2 separate regions of the Homo sapiens genome follow, and region 2 is linked to region 1. The links come from fine-mapping of genetic effects on gene expression. Tissue or cell type: whole blood. Region 1 holds a variant in brackets; the other region holds the start of a gene. All regions are shown on one strand. Distances are from middle to middle. Region 1 overlaps TTC7A (tetratricopeptide repeat domain 7A). Region 2 holds the start of MCFD2 (multiple coagulation factor deficiency 2, ER cargo receptor complex subunit).

Region 1 (8,000 bases):
GTCACCATCCTCTTCCTATCAGAAATGGGTCAAAGTGCAGAATCACGGAGGCCAAGAGTGGCTGAATTTAAACGTGTTTTCTTTCCCCTCCTTTTTCAAAAGTTGCTTACATCTCAATCTCCATCCCACAGAGGAACTCTCAGGGCCTCCCTTAGGGCCTGCAGTGGTCTTGTCAGCCATGATCACCCCTACTGTGGCTTGGGATCCTGTGCTGTTGCCTGAGGGAGGCTGTGCTGGCCCTGGGCTGTGCCACCCTGGCACGTGAGTTCTGACCTTGGACATGGCCCCAGTTCTCCTTGTAACCTCCCGCCTCTGCAGGCCATTTGCTCTGGCCCCCTGCCTCTGATCCTGTCCTCAGCTGGCTCACAATGCCTATGGGCCAGGCCCTGGGCACTGCTCCCGCCACACAGGCACCAATCTGTCCATAAAACTCCCCGAAGATGCAGCTCTCATCCCACACCTGGCATTTGTCACTGGCAGGAAGGTGCTACCCCTGTCTCCCTGTAGGGAGGTAAGAGTCTGGGGTCCCTGTGACCCCAGGGCAAGCCTCCAGCACTCCTTACCATCTACTGCCCTCTCAGAAGCCAAGAGAAATGAAGCGTGGCACAGACAGGCTCTGGGGAAGCCAAATTCACCTTCCCAACTGGTCCTTCTGGCCTTTGTAAATCCACATTCCTCTTTTGCCTGTGCTTCCTCAGGTCCCCTTCCCCCTGGCCTAACCAGGTCCTCTTCTATCCTTTGGGGCCTTGCTCAGGCCCACCTTCTCCTGAAAGCCTCCTTGACTACCAGGGAGCTCCCTTCAGCTGAACTCCTCCAATGCCTCTACCAATGGGCCCATTCAGCCTCTGCACGCCTGACCTGCTCTCTCTATTAATTAACTCTCCAAAGCTGAATCTTTTGAGGGGATTTGCTAGTCTTCCCAGATAGGCCATCCACTCCCTGGGCCAGGGCCACAGATGACACATCCCAGAGGTATGTGGCCCACAGTCCTTCCAAGCTGGGCAGTGACTCTGCGTTCCCTGCACTGGTCTCAAGCCACGGGCTCATTTCCTCCCTGCTCGGGCTGCGTCTTCCTCGTGGGTGAGGGAGAGATAATAACACCTACTCCTCACTGCCTATCACAGCGATGCTGAAGGCATTAATAGGGCAAAGTCCAGAAAAGAGCTTTGAACTTTTCTTTGGAAAAGAGCAAGATAAATACAGGGTATGCGTATTTATCATTATCCTGCACATGGAGACAAGGGCAGTGAGGCAGAGAAGGACATTTCAGGCATGCTGATGGGGTGTGGCTAGTGGCGGTTCCTGGAGGACCAGTGGCAGTTTACAACAGAGCTTCCACCAAGCTGGGGAAAAATTAGACAATGCAGGGCATGTTTTATAAAGCCACATTTACACTATTTAAAAAAATGCTCGGCCGGGTACGGTGGCTCACGCCTGTAATCCCAGCACTTTGGGAGGTCGAGGCAGGCAGATCACCTAAGATCAGGAATTTGAGACCAGCCTGGACAACATGGTAAAACCCGTCTCTACTAAAAATACAAAAATTATCCGGGCGTGGTGGTGGGCGCCTGTAATCCTAGCTACTTGGGAGGCTGAGGCAGAAGAATCGCTTGAACCCGGGAGGCGGAGGTTGCAGTGAGCCAAGATCGTGCCACTGTACTCCAGCCTGGGTGACAGAGCGAGACTCCGTTGTCTCAAAAAAAAAAAAAAAAAAAAGGCTCTTAGTTCTGAAAGGATATCTACCTTGCCCTTTCAATGCTAAACTGTTTTTCTGTTATAGCACAGTAAGAGCAGAAGATGGTATCATTTTGCTGCTATTTTTTGCTTCTTAATGTCCTTACTTGGCAACATTAAGAGTCCACTGCACTCTGTGGGGCCCATGCATTTGAATGTGAAATATTCTTGGTCTATCAGTACAACAGTCAGGGAACGGAACCCCTTGCCCAGTGGGAGGGTGCCACGGGGGAGGTCGCTTTACCAGAGGAACAATCCCCTCTACTGTGTGGATCAGCGCATCACCTACTCCTTTTGTGCCTCACTGTCCCTGTCAATAAAAGGGGAAAAAGGACTTCATGGAGATATCCAGGTATGAGGAAAGAACGGATGAGGAAATACTTCACAGACTAACGTGGGAACTATAAAAGTGGGGGTGTGATCACCATCTTTCACATGAATCCAACTTTCCCAGTCATTATTTTATTTCCACCCCAGTACTCTGGGAGGCAGTACCAAGAAATGAGAGACAGCATTAGAGCATGGGCTGTAGACACTAAAGGCCTGGGTTGTGATCACCTTTCTTGGGTCTCAAGAGATGGAGCTTGGCAGGGCACAGTGGCTCACACCTGTAATCCCAGCACTTTGGGAGACCAAGGCAAGAGGATCGCTTGAAACCCAGAATCTGAGACCAGCCTGAGAAACACAGTAAGAACTGTGTCTCTACAAAAAATTGAAAAAAAAAAAAAAGAAAGAAAGAAAGAAAAAGAAATGGGGCTAATAGTAAATACCGTTGCAGAAGGTTCCTTGGAGGCCTGCATGCGATGGTGCAAAGCCTCAACCTAGTAGCAGAACAGAGTTTAGGACAAGTGGCTTGTTTTCACTGATCTCCACACAACTGAGCTGGACGGGGTCTTAGAGAGATAACCAAGAGGAAAGGGTTTCAAGCTTTCCCAAGGAGGGGCCTCAGGACCCACCTCTCCCAGCTCTCCTTCTCATCCAGCAGAGCTACTTGGATGCACAGGAATCCACCTGAGACTGCATCAGCTGCCAAGAAAGGTCACGCCAACTGTGACCTGATCTTTGCGGGTGAGATAGAAAATACTACAAATGATGGCCGGGCATGGTGGCTCACGCCTGTAATCCTAGCACTTTGGGAGGCACAGGTGACAGGACTGCTTGATCCCAGGAGTTTAAGACCAGCCTGAGCAATATGACAAGACTTTGTCTCTACAAAAAAATTTAAAAATTAGCTGGGTGTGGTGGTGCATGCCTATAGTCCCAGCTACTCAGGAGGCTGAAGCAGGATGATCACTTGAGCCCAGGAGGTCCAGTCTGCAGTGAGCCATGTTCACGCCACTGCACTCCAGCCTGGGTGACAGAGTGAGACCCTGTCTCAAAAAAGAATCCCACAAACGACATTTAATATATTATTTTACAGATCATCATTAAGTTTTTGGCTCTGGCCTGGATAACAGTAAATTTCTGCACATTATTGGTGCCTATATATGTCTTTGTTTAACAAAATATGGTACAATTTGTATTTAATAAAACCGTTGTCACAATACATGTGGTTACTATTCAGCCAATACAAAGAATGAGACAATACTGGCATGGAGAAAGCTCTAAATAAAACTTCTTGGTGAAAAATATATATCTTACAACTCTATGAAAAGAAATATCTGTGTGTATATATGTTTGTAAATGCACAAAGAAAGGCATAGGAGATGCACATCAAATACTGACCAGTGCTCAACTCTGAGGATGGGTGTGGGCATGAGGGTGAGGTTGGAAAACAAGAACTTTTTTTGTGTGTGTGAGACAGGATCTTGCTCTGTCACCCAGGCTGGAGTGCAGTGGCATGAACACAACTCACTGCAGCCCCAACCTCCTAGGCTCAAGTGACCCTCCAGCCGCAGCTTCTTGGGTAGCTGGGACCACAGGTGCAAGCCACCACGCCTAGCTAATTAAAAAAATTTTCTGTAGAGATGGGGTCTCACCATGTTGCCCAGTCTGATCTCAAACTTCTGGCTCAAGCAATCCTCCCACCTTAGCCTCCCAAAGTGCTAAGACTACAGGCGTGAGCCATAGGCCAGCTGGGACTTTTATTTATCACTCAAATTACTTATTTGTTGACTGGAATTTTTACAATAAGGCTGAATCATGTTTATTTTAAAAACAATTTTTAAATATTTAATTTAACATTTAATTATTAATTTAATATTTTTAAAACGAAAAGCGGTCTTGGTGGGAAAAGCTTGAACCCCACCAATCTGGTCCAACCCTTTTGACCAGCAGATGAGAAACTGGAAGGTCTGTGGGGTCAAGCATGCTCAGGGTCAGGCAGCTATTTTAACCCAATACAAACCTCCCAGTGCTACAATACCTGTCAAGGAGCCTAAAAGCAGTAACCTTAAACTTCTAGTACACACTCCCCTCTCCCCTGGCCTTTCCCTCCCTTACAAAATAAGCCCTGCACATCCTGGCCTGGTGTTCCAGTCTGCCCTTACTAGCCCCAAAGTACCTTTACAACCTTGTCTAGATCCAGCCCCAGAAGGATCCAATTCTAGTACTGCCATTACTCAGAGTCTGCTCTCTGCTTATCCCCAAAGAGCATCCCCCTCAGACTTGCTTCCTCGTGGATA[G/A]CACTCCTATCACGGTCTACCTTGGAGGAAGGCTATTTACTTGCTGATAGGACTTATCTTCCCAAGAGACCTGCAACCTCCTTGAGGGCAGGGTCCATGCTGGATTCGTCTTGATTGCCTTCAGAGTGCACAACACAATGCCTTGCACACAGTACGTTGGAATAAAAGGTTTAAGGAAGTGAATATATTACTTTGGAATAGCTCTTTAAAAATCAGCTGGGCGCAGTGCCTCACTCCTGTAATCCCAACGCTTCGGGAGGCTGAAGTAGGAGGATCGCTTGAGCCCAGGAGTTGGAGACCAGCCTGAGTAACACAGCGAGACCCTGAAGAAAATAAAGACAGACAGAAAGACAGAAAGAAAGAGAGAGACAGAGGGGAAGGAAGCAAGGAAGGAAGGGAGGGAGGGAGGGATCACTTCCTCTTTGAGTTTTTTTTTACCCCCTCCCCCTCCTCTTTTGAGTTTCTAATGACATACCCATGCCACTATTATAGTTCAGGATACATTGTAATCTAACACAGCCACAGCCTCAAACTTGGATGCACATATGAATCACCCAGGAGAGCTTGTTAAAACACAGATTCTAATTCTTAATTGCATTTCTTTTTTTTTTTCTCTTAATTGCATTTCTAACCAGCTCCCCAATGATGCCTACACTGCTGGTGGGTGGACCACATTTTGAGCAGCAAAGTCCAGAGAAAGTTGTGACCATACTCCTTCTGGGAGGGAGAGGTGGGTCCTCTACCTCCCTCAGTGTCTTGTACTCAGTAGGTGCTTGATAAATACACGTGGACTTAAATGGGCTTGCCCTGTTATGGAGCTCTTCTGTCCCTAGCCAACTCTGCATGTTTGCCTGTTTCTAACTAGGTCACAGGTTCACTGAGGTTTTATTTTCCTGAGAGCCCCCTGACCCAAGGAGCCCAAAGGGCCAGGCACATATTAAGTCAACCAAGCACTGTCCAAAAAAATATGATGTAAGCCACAAATGTGAACCACATGTGTAATTTAAAAATTTCTACTAAGATTTTTTTTAGTCACACTGAAAAAGGTAAAAGGTGAAATTAATTTTAATAACATGTTTTATTTAACCCAATATATCCAAAATATACCATCTGAACATGTAATCAACATAAAAAGTTACTGCTCTTTTCTATTCTTTGTTTTGTACTAAGTCTTTGAAACCTTGTGTATGCTTTATACTTACAGCACATCTCAATGTGGACTAGCCATACTCCAAGTGCTCAAGGGGCCATGTGCAGCCAGTGGCTACTGTAAGTGCAAGGGCAGCTTGTAAGAGAGACTTGTTGCTCAGGTGACCAAATGACTCAGGGAGGACTGGACAGATGCGAGGCAAGACAGACGAGGAGAGGAGGTCTCAGGCTTGAAGGCTGACGACTTACCGAGAGCCTCCCATGGTTAAGGATACTGCTTAGATAATTTTTGGCTTCGCTCATCTTCGGCTCATTCTTCTCCAGCAAAGGCATGGAGTCTTTTATTTTGGCATGGTTCTCCTTCAAACACTGCTCCAGGAGGGCCTCAGCCAGCAGCAATTTCCCAAAGTCATCTGAAAAGCAAAGTAGGGGTCAGAGCAGCAAACCCCGAACAAGGCGGATAATGGAGGGAGTTGCACACTCCTGGACCCACCCAACCACCCATACCCAGTACATGAATGGCTCAGGTCTGAGAAAATAAAGGCACATTTTTCATAAATTTCAACAGCCTTTAAAGAAAAGACACAGGCATTCTACTATGGTCACAATACAAATTGCCCCTTGGATTTATTTTCTGCTGTAGTTTAATGGTTGGGAAGACAGAGTTCCCAGGACTCGGGGACAAATTCCCAGAATTTCAGAATTTAAAATAAGGGACAAAGTCATACATATGCTGTGCTGTGGATAATAAGTTCTTAAACCAAGAAGAATTCTCCCCAAATGATTGAAGAGAAAAAATACATGAAGTGGTTTAATAATGTACTTTTACATGCTCCTAATTTCTATGTAACCATAATTGGTTTTCCCCATTTTTAAGTGTTTTTGTTTGTTTGTTTGTTTTAAACAGAGTCTCACTCTGCCACCCTAGCTGGAGTGCACTGGCATGATCATGGCACTCCCAGGCTCAAGTGACCCTCCTGACTCAGCCTCCCAAAGTGCTGGGATTACAGGCATCAGCCACCATACCATCCAGTTTTTAAGGTAATTTGACATGACTCAGGATAACCTAGCAGCCACAGTAGAGTTAGGTGGGAAGCAGATCTACTTGTTGCCAAGGCAAATCCTCGAACATGTTGAATACCTGCATTTTCTGGAGTTCTCTCACATATAGGGTATACCCGCAAATGAGGGTAGCTCATTTGCATCCCTCACCACCTGGTAGGTGGTTTTATACTGCTTGGTTTAGTGAGCGCAGTGGCTCACACCTGTAATCCCAGCACTTTGGGAGCCCAAGGCAGGCAGATCACTTGAGGTCAGGAGTTTGAGACCAGCCTGGCCAACATGGCAAAACTCTGTCTCCACTAAAAATGCAAAAATTAGCCAGGCATGATGATGGGCACCTGTAATCCCAGCTACTCGGGAAGCTGAGGCAGAACTGCCTGAATTCGGGAGACGGAGGTTGCAGTGAGCCGAGATCACACCACTGCACTCCAGCCTGGGCAACAAAGTGAGATTCTGTCTCAAAAAATAAAAATAAAGATAATATACTGCTTGGTTTATTTGCTGCCTCCCTTTACCACACTGAAAACTCGTCTTGTGACCACCAGATTCCTGCTACCTACAGCAGAGGTGGCTCGAGCATGGGAGCCGGGTGTTCAGTGTGCAGGGTCTGAGGTCAAGATGGTTTCACCATGGTTCTTGGGTGGCTGTGCTCATTGCCCCTCCCAGCAACTGGGGTGAGGAGCAGGCCCACCATTCAATATAAGCACTGAGTAAATACCTGTTGAGTGAATTGGATCCTCTCAACTACCCCACAGCGAAGCCATCAGGATCGAGAGTTAAGTGCCAATCCAAAAACATCCCTAGGAATGCCTGCTTGGTGCCATCTTTTTCAAAGTGCTCTTTTTGCTACCAGTACAGTGTTCTCAGATCTACAGGGCTGCCATTGCCTCCTCACTCTCAGGATACCACAGTCTGCTAACATCTCATAGCCACTAGTCCAAAACTGCATGCCTTAGCTGGGCACAGTAGTGCAAGCCTGTAGTCCCAGCTTCTTGGGAGGCTGAGGTGGAAGAATTGCTCAAGCCCAGGAGTTCAAGACCAGCCTGGGCAACATAGGGAGACCTCGTCTTTAGAAAAACACAAAAAACTTCATGCCTCTGAAGAAGAATCTCTCACCGTAAGGGAGATTCCCCACAGAGAACGGTTCTAAAGCCCAGAATCCCAAGAACACCATCGCAGGGGGGTTTCGTTCTGAAGGCACCTGTTATGGGATCCTTTGCTATGTACCTCATGACTTTTAAAATTAACATTTTAAGGAAATGGTCAAAAAAGTACCTGGTTCAAACTATCATTCATTGCTGGCAGACTATAAGTTGGTAGAACCTCTAGGGTAATTTGGCAACGTACATCAAAATTATTTTTGAACATCCCCATAGATCCAGTCAGTCAGAGCCACATTCCAGAGCTGTGGGCCTTGGGGAAAGTTGCTCC
Region 2 (8,518 bases), 37 kb after region 1:
TGTATTAAGTTCTCAGTTGGAGAATCTGGAAGCCGCACCCTTGTTTTTTCCTCTACTTGTGCAGAACGCACACCTTTTGCATCCTACTCCCTGTTAGAAGGAATTCCAGGGTTCAGAGATTACCACAGGGCCCAACAGCAAGAGACTGTTGTTAACCAGGCTTGAGATTTTAGGGACACAGGATTACCTCAATCATTTGTTAGACTTCTGATCAATTTCATGTATAGTAATCACAAATAACTTACCTAAAGTCTTATTTATTTATTTAGAGACAGAGTTTAGCTCTTGCTGCCCAGGCTGAAGAGCAATGGTGCGATCTCAGCTCACCTCAACCTCTGCTGCCCGGGTTCAAGCAATTCTCCTGCTTCAGCCTCCCGAGTATCTGGGATTACAAGCATGCGTCACCACACCCAGCTAATTTTGTATTTTTAGTAGAGACAGGGTTTCACCATGCTGGCCAGGCTGGTCTCGAACTCCTGACCTGAGGTGATTTGCCGCCTCGGCCTCCCAAAGTGCTGGGATTACAGGCGTGAGCCACCACACCCAGCCTATCTAGAGTCTTTAAATTGTTTTTATTCAATATTTTTCTATTTATTTTTCCAAATAAGTAATATGTAGTTTACAACATCAAAGCAATACTAAAAGGTGTAAATTGAAATCTTATTTTCACCCCTATTCTCATCCACTCTGGAATCCCCTACATAGGTAAAACATTGTCTTGAGACAATTCAAAACAGCTGAGGAAAGAGATGCCACCTAGAGGCCATTCTGGTATCTTGGGATGGCCGTCCTATCTCCTGATAAAGCCACCTCTCTGTCTCTACTTGTACTAGTTTCAACCTGAGTACACAAAGTAAATGGGGTATTTCAGCAAGGTTCCAAGTTATGAGACTCCTGGTTGCAGGTAAAGAGATCCTCTCTTACCTAGTCGTTACTTTCTTTAATCTCTGCTTTCAAATCAGTTATTTCCAACGTAGAGTTGCCCTTCTCTTGAAGGAGTCTGCTGAAAGCTACTAAAAAAGGCAACACTCACTAATGTTCCATATTGCTCGTGAGATTTCTCCAAAAATATAGCATTGGTTGGCATGTGGCCTATATCCAAGGTCCAGCAAGTGACAGTTTCACTACGGCTTATAAGGGTCACCAACTTTCCAGTTTGACATACAGTCTTTTAACACTGGCTACCTTAACCTCCAGTTAGCCAATTCCATATTTTAGTGTCTTGTTTTTAGCATCCTGCTTCTGGTACCAAATTATTTGCCTGTTAGGAATGGGTTCAGCTACAAGTTACAGAACACCCACCTATAAAATGGCTTAATCAAAGGTGGCTTCTCACTTATGGACTACAGTAGGGCAAGAATGGAAGCAGGACGGTCAGTTAGGAAGCTCTCTCTCAAGTAGTCCAGCAGCATCATCTACTACTGGACTAGATGGTTTAGTGGAGGTGGAAAGAAGTCAAAGACTCAGGATACATTTTGATAGCATCAACAGGCTTTGCTGAAGGATTTAAAGGTAAAGGGATGAGATAAATCAAAAACAGCTCGTAGAATTTTAGCTTGAACAACAGAATGAGTACCAGTGACATTTACTAAAATGCACAAGACTGAGAGAGGTGCAGGTTTGGGGGTGAAAATCAAGATTTTGGGGGGACACATTAAGTTTGAGATGCCAGTCTGACATTCATATGGAGACATCAAGTAGGCAGTTATTTACAGGAGCCAGGAATTACACAGAGAGGTCATTGTCAGAGAGACATATTTTGGAGTCATCTATTTATAAATGGTATCTAAAGCACAGGACTAGGTAAACTCACATAGGGAGGGTGGATAGAGAAGGTGACTCAGAACAGAACCCTGGACACTTTGATAATTATAGATTGAGAAGCCAATTAAGAAGCCCAAGAAAGGATAATGAGTGAGGTAGCAGAAGGACCCAGAGTGTGTGGTGTCAGAAAACAAGAGAAGAAAGTGTTTCTAAGTGAGAGTGGTTGGCTTTGATAAAACAGTGTTGAGAGGGCAAGTAAAATAAAAACAAGAGATCAAAGAGACCACTAGATTTGCATGGAGATTGCAGTTTCAGTGGTATGGTGGGGGAGAAAATACAGCAAGTTTATATGTTGATGGGAATTATCTGGTAGAGAGGGAGTGACTGTAGATTCAAGAGAGACATAACACAGGATAACATCCATAGGAAAAAAATGAAAGCACTGGCTAGAATGAGGACACTTTATCCATCTACCAGACACCAGCTTCTTGACACTTCATTTGTCTTATTTGTATCTCTAGTAGCTCCTAGTAGAGCGCCTAGTACATAGAAGATATTCAAGAAATGTTATTGAATGAATAAATGAACAAAGGGAGGGGTGGATGAATGGATGAAGAGATGGATGAATGGCAGATGCAGGGTAGAAGGAGGAACTAGATCAAACTAATCCAAAGTTCAGAGTAAGGAAAGAAGAATGGGTCTTGAATTAATAGGGTTTCCTCAAAACTTAGGGATTCTTTGTCCCGGCGCGGTGGCTCACCCCTGTAATCCCAGCACTTTGGGAGGCGGAGGTGGTGGGAGGATTGCTTGAACCCAGGAGTTCGAGACGAGCTGGGCACCATGGAGACTCTTTTCTTTAAAAAAAGAAAAAAAAATTAGGGATTATGGGATTTTTCTCTGGGATGGGGTGGCAGATTTCAATCTCAGATGAAGGTGGGAAAAGGAATGAGACCGTCAATGGCAGTGGCGTTAGGCAACTTTCAAGGCATCTAACTACTTAGCCACTTTCTTTGTCTTTCCTGTCCGGACCCAGGCTCATTTGAAAAACGATTATGTACCTTTATGGACAGAAATGGGAGAAGGGCTTTAAAAAAAACGACCGTCCTGCCGGGAGTGGTGGCTCACGCCTGTAATCCCAGCACTTTGGGAGGCTGAGGCGGGAGGATCAAGAGGTCAGCAGTTAGAGACCAGCCTGGCCAACACGGTGAAACCCCGTCTCTACTAAAAATACAAAAATTAGCCGGGCAAGGTGGCACGCGCCTGTAATCCCAGCTACTCGGGAGGCTGAGGTAGGAGAAGAGCTTGAACCTGGGAGGCGGAGGTTGCAGTGAGCCGAGATCCCACCACTGCACTCCAGCCTGGGACAGAGCGAGACTCCGTCTCAAAACAAAACAAAACAAAACAAAAAAACAAAACGACCGTCCTACACTCATTTATCCATCAGGTCAATGGATACTTACTGAATGTTAATCTTGTATAGGAGCACAGGTGTAAGGGCAGGATTATACAGGGATGAATTCGATACAGGGATGATGTATTCGTTTCCCTATTTGTTCATGAGTCTGTTTTTAAGTAATCTGTCCTCTCTTGAATGTCAAAAGCTGCTGATTTCACGAACGGTACATGGAAGATGGTATTTGAACTGGGTCGCATAGTCTTGCTGGGACTCCCGTGGAAGCGAACGGGGACAGCGGCTGCCGCAGCTTGTGCAGTGGAGCTGGCAGACGCTGGAAGCAGGCCAATCTTGAAACGTAGGGTCCAAGGCCGGCTCCAGCGTGTTGTGGTCGTTTCATCAAGAAGGAATTAGCATTCCTATTATCTTTCTTCCCAACTTGCAGCAGGACGAACCAAGAGACCTGAACCAAGAGCCCTGTATAGGAGGGGGTGAGCGGAGTTGGGAGCCAGCTTTGGGGTCCGCCCCATCCGGATCCGCCATCCTACGTCGCCCGTGGAACTACGTTCCTGAGGGCTTCCGGCGTTGCCTAGCAACTGCCGGGCCCCTAGGGCGTCCAGCGGCCCAACTGGAGTGGAGCCGAGTGTCGCCCTTGGGAAAGCAGGTAGAAGAACTGCGTCAGTCCCGCCAGTGCTGGGCCCGGGCCGATTACACGTGGACTCACGCGAGCCGTCCTCACAGCCCGCCGCCGCCAGCGGGAGGGGCCCGGCGGCGCCAATGGGCGGGCGGCAGGGAGCGCGCGTGCGCAGGGCAGGTCGGGGGGGGGGGGGGGGCGGGGCGAAGCCGAGGAAGAGCGTTTTGGGGACGGGGGCTGGTGAGGCTCACGTTGGAGGGCTTCGCGTCTGCTTCGGAGACCGTAAGGGTGAGTGAACTAGCGCACTCTCCGCAGCGGGCGGGATCCCGGCGCCTCTCCTGTGGGCTGGAGGCTTGGGCTCAAGATGAGAGGCAGGAGTAGTCTGGGGGCGCGGGCTGGGCCCCCAGGCCGTCTCGGGACGCTTAACCGGCTAGGAGCACGGCCTGTCTCCCGGGGCGGAAGCCTGTGCCCCACCGGGGGCTCTGGAGCCAGACGGGGCCGACTGGGCAGATCTCCGCCCCCTTCCCTGGTCCCTAGGGGCCCGAGGATCGGCCTGTGGGACCAGCTGTGTCGGGTGGACACTGCTCCTGGCCCGGCCCAAAAGCAGCGGGCCGGAAGCCTTACTCTCCCTCTGCTCCTTGTTCCCTCTCTCGGGGAGACCACAGGTCCTGTCGGGCCCGGCGGGGGAAGCTGATCTCCTGTTGTATTCCCTCTCTGGGCATGGCCATCCACCCGGGTGCCCAAGCCAGAATTGGGCATCATTCTCACTTGCTTCACTCCTTTACCCACCCACATCGAATCCCTTGCAAAGTTGTCTTGGATACGTTCATTCTCCAGTCCCATCCCCCTGCCCTACCTAGTTCAGGCCACCTTTTCTTCTCTGGACTACCTCGGTGTCTTCCTGATGATCCCTGCATCTCTTCTTCATCCTCTGTAGTTTGTTCTATACAGAGAGGCTACAGCCATGGTCTTAAAACAGAAATCTGATCATGTGACCAGAAGCGTCCCCCCATTCCCTTATCACCCTTTGGTGGATTCTCATTGCTCTTCCAAGCTCTTGAACGGGGCTTGCAAAGCCCTTCATGACCTGTCTTCCTTTAACTTTAGATTCATTTGTCTCGACTGTACTGTGTCTTCAACCATACTGAATCTTTTTTGGTTCTTAGATCAGAACAAGTTCCTTCTGGGCTTACATGTTCCTTCAGTATGTTCGCTATGTCTGAGGCACTGTCCTTTGGTTGAAATAATCCTTCTTATCCTTTATGTGTTATTTCAGGTGTCAGTTGGGGATTTCGTGGTACCCCATGGGTGTCTGCCTGCCGGTCTCTCTTTTCTACCAGGTTGTAATCTGTGTGAGAGGAGTTTGTCGAGGTCATAGTACTATCTTCAGTACCTTGTGCTGTTAGTACGGTCATTAAATGTATAAATGCAGCATGGGTGCTCCTTGGGCTCCCTAGATGAACAAATAGATCAAGTTATTAATATTAAATGCCTGCTTTTTCAGAACCAATTCTCAACCCTCAGTCCGTGTAGAGGTTTCTTTAGCTTAGGAAGTTGGTTATTTTCTTGCCTTCATTCCAGGACCATGACAGGGGTAAGTGACAAAGTACTGGTCAGTTTTTCTTTGGCATTGGCTGTGGGTACAGGATGTCTGGATGTTGGTGAGTTTGGCTGCTTTGGGTTTGAATTCTTAACCAAGGGCCCCTTGAGGGAGAAGCTGCTACTAGCTGCTGGCAGGAAGGCTGGCCCCAAACTTAGTGCTGATAGGACTGATGACACACCAGGAAGAAAGGGTTGGGCCAGGTCAAACCACTGGAAGCCTCCAAAGGAAGTTCCAGCTTAGGCTAGATCCGCTGTGGGATAGGGAACAATACACCTAGGTGCCAAGACTCACTTCCCTGATTCAGCGATGAGCCAGGTCAGCTCAGCAGAGATCAGTAAGGTAAATGAGAGCCAGAGGAGAGAGGGTCCTGACTCTCAGAGAGGGAGGAAAAGAGAAAAATGGAAAAGGAGAACAACCTGTGATCGTATGTTCAGGTCAAATGAGTGTGAGAGGCTACAGACTGAGGTCGGATGAGAGAGCAATTGGTCTTGGCTGGAAGAATCCTGAGGTGACATTTGAACCTGTCCTGGAAGGAAGTTGGAGATGGACAGATGGAACCAGTAGGAGCGGAGGCTGTGGTACAGGAAGAGGCTGGCAGAGCAGGAGGGGAGCACTGTGACAGCCAAGGCACTGGGAGGCGCACTGCTCCTGATGGTCCAGCACTGCCCTCCCAGGACTGAGGCTGCGCCTTGTGAGGGCTGTCTCAAGGTATGGGTTGTGCCCTGAAGTCCCTTTGCAGAAATTTCTCCTCCGTTGGGTTTTTCTTCAGCCTGGCCTTTATAATTTCCTAAAGAAGGCCAGTGAGCTGGGGCTTATCTTCAGGCTGTTAGCCCATGGCCTTGAGCTAAGTAGTTAGAGCATGGATGATGCAACCTGTTATTTGGGTAGAGGGAGTTGCTTATGCTTTCTCTTGACTGTCAGCAGTTTAATTTGTTAGGTGGCAGTTAGATTCCCTGTTTTCTATCTTTCCCTCCCTCGCCTGCCTTCTTTCCTTTCTTCCTCTCTCTCTCTCTCTTTTTCTAATTAGAGAGGGAGTCTCACCATGTTGTCCAGGCTGGTCTTGAACTCCTGGGCTCAAGTGATTCACTTGCCTCAGCCTCTCAAAGTATTGAGATTACAGGCATAAGCCACCATGCCCAGCCCGATTCCCTGTTTTCAGTGTACCACTTGGAGGAATTTTTTTTCTTTATGTTTATCGATTTGGCTTTTGTTGCATTCCAATGATTAGAAACCTGCAACAGCAAACCAAAATGAGACAAGTTCAAAATCAGTGATTCTTGGCCTTTATCCCACCTCCCTTAAAGAAGGGATATTTTGGACTCATAGTTACTACATGATTAATCACTTGGTTGCTTTTTGGTGTTATCTAAATAGAATTTCCCCCACCCCCAACACACACACACCAAATTGATATACTAAGCATCCAATCACATAGTTGGAGGAAATGGTGCCATGAGTTCCATGATAGATATCTCCAAAAGAAAAGTTTCATCTTCAGTTACAGTGACATTAAAAATTGGCAGCATATCTGCAAAGGTGGTAATCCCCCCAGCTCCCCAAGGACCATGGCACACAGGCTAAGAACCAGCAGCTTCTGTTCCAGGCACTGTGCCTGATACTGGGAATGTGGATTCAGTCCAAGTCCTCTTAAAGCCCATCCAGCAAGGGGCACTGACAAGTAATCAGGCAGTTTTTCAAGAATTCATTCACACACAAGAAAACAAAAGAAAAAAAAGAATTAATTTGCAGCTGTCATCAGCTGTGGACGGGAGCCTTCTGAAGGGAAGCACTTGGGAGCCTGCAGGACGAATACCTACACCAGACTTGGAATTGAAAAGACCTCACTGGAGAAAGAGACATTTGATGTAAATGAGTCTGAAAGGCTTGGGAGGAGCTTGATTCCCTTCTCTGATCCTTCCTGTCCCAGAACTCTAAGATGTGTGGTCAGAACAAGTTGTTCTGCTATGGCCTAGGCAGTCACTGCTAGGAGTAACCTGAAACCTTGTTTTGTGGTACCAGGTACAGTGGCAGTGGCCTTGTCAGGGTCTGGACACGTTTAAAAAATTTTTTTGAGACAGTCTCACTCTCTTGCCCAGGCTGGAGTGCAGTGGTGTGATCTTGGCTCACTGCAATCTCTGCCTCCCGGGTTCAAGCAATTCTTGTGCCTCAGCCTCCCAAATAGCTGGGATTACAGGTGCACGCCACCATGCCCAGCAAATTTTTTTTTGTATTTTTAGTAGAGACGCATTTTGCCACATTGGCCAGGCTGGTCTCAAACTCCTGACCTCAAGTGATCCACTTGCCTCGGCCTCCCGAAGTGTTGGGATCATAGATGTGAGCCACTGTCCCTGGCCAAGGTCTGGGCACTTTTATTTGGTAAAATTGGAAGTGTAGTTTCTGACTGTTTCTGAATTATTTTGTGGAGATAAGAATTAACCGGAAACTCCTTTTGTATCCGATCCATATAGTATTGGGACAAAATTATGGGATAGATTACATTGAATACATATTCATAAAAAATGGTAGCAGATCTCGGCTCACTGCAGGCTCCACCTCCGGGTTCATGCCATTCTCCTGCCGCAGCCTCCCAAGTAGCTGGGACTACAGGTGCCCGCCACCACGCCTGGCTAATTTTTATTTTTGTATTTTTAGTAGAAACGGGATTTCACCGTGTTAGCCAGGGTGGTCTCGATCTCCTGACCTCGTGATCTGCCCGCCTCGGCCTCCCAAAGTGCTGGGATTACAGGCACGAGCCACCATGCCGGCTGAAAATCACAATTCTAATCTCATGTCTCAAGATAATCTTTGTTATTAGTTTGTGTAGGAAATACACATTTTTATTTTACAAAAGTGTATTATTCTTTATTGCTTTTTTGCAGCCTGTTCTTTTTCATTCAATATATATTGAGCATTCTTTCCTATTAAGTATGACATATTGCTTTTTTTTTTTTTTAAACTACAGATATAAAAGGTCTGAGGTGGCCGGGCACGGTGGCTCATGCCTGTAACCCCAGCACTTTGGGAGGCCGAGGCGGGTGGATCACCTGAGGTCTGGAGTTCGAGATCAGCCTGGCCAAGATGGTGAAACCCTGTCTCTACTAAAAACACAAAAATTAGCTGGACG

Evidence for each region. PIP is the estimated chance that this variant, and not a neighbour inherited with it, causes the effect.
Region 2: it holds the start of MCFD2, and the variant in region 1 is fine-mapped to the expression of MCFD2 in whole blood (TOPMed, PIP above 0.99).

What each region holds. Positions count from the first base shown.
Region 1 is chr2:46,948,283-46,956,282 of GRCh38, reverse strand. TTC7A (tetratricopeptide repeat domain 7A) reads right to left here. Exons shown (of 20, transcript NM_020458.4): 2 at 5,757-5,920. Among named protein-coding and RNA genes, the nearest start is that of TTC7A, 11 kb to the right of the region's middle. RefSeq lists a silencer at 859-1,153. The variant G/A (reference allele first, on the strand shown) is at 4,359.
Region 2 is chr2:46,911,284-46,919,801 of GRCh38, reverse strand. MCFD2 (multiple coagulation factor deficiency 2, ER cargo receptor complex subunit) reads left to right here and starts at 3,996. Exons shown (of 4, transcript NM_139279.6): 1 at 3,996-4,079. It also overlaps a transcript of TTC7A not described here. RefSeq lists an enhancer at 2,952-3,926 and a silencer at 3,930-4,009.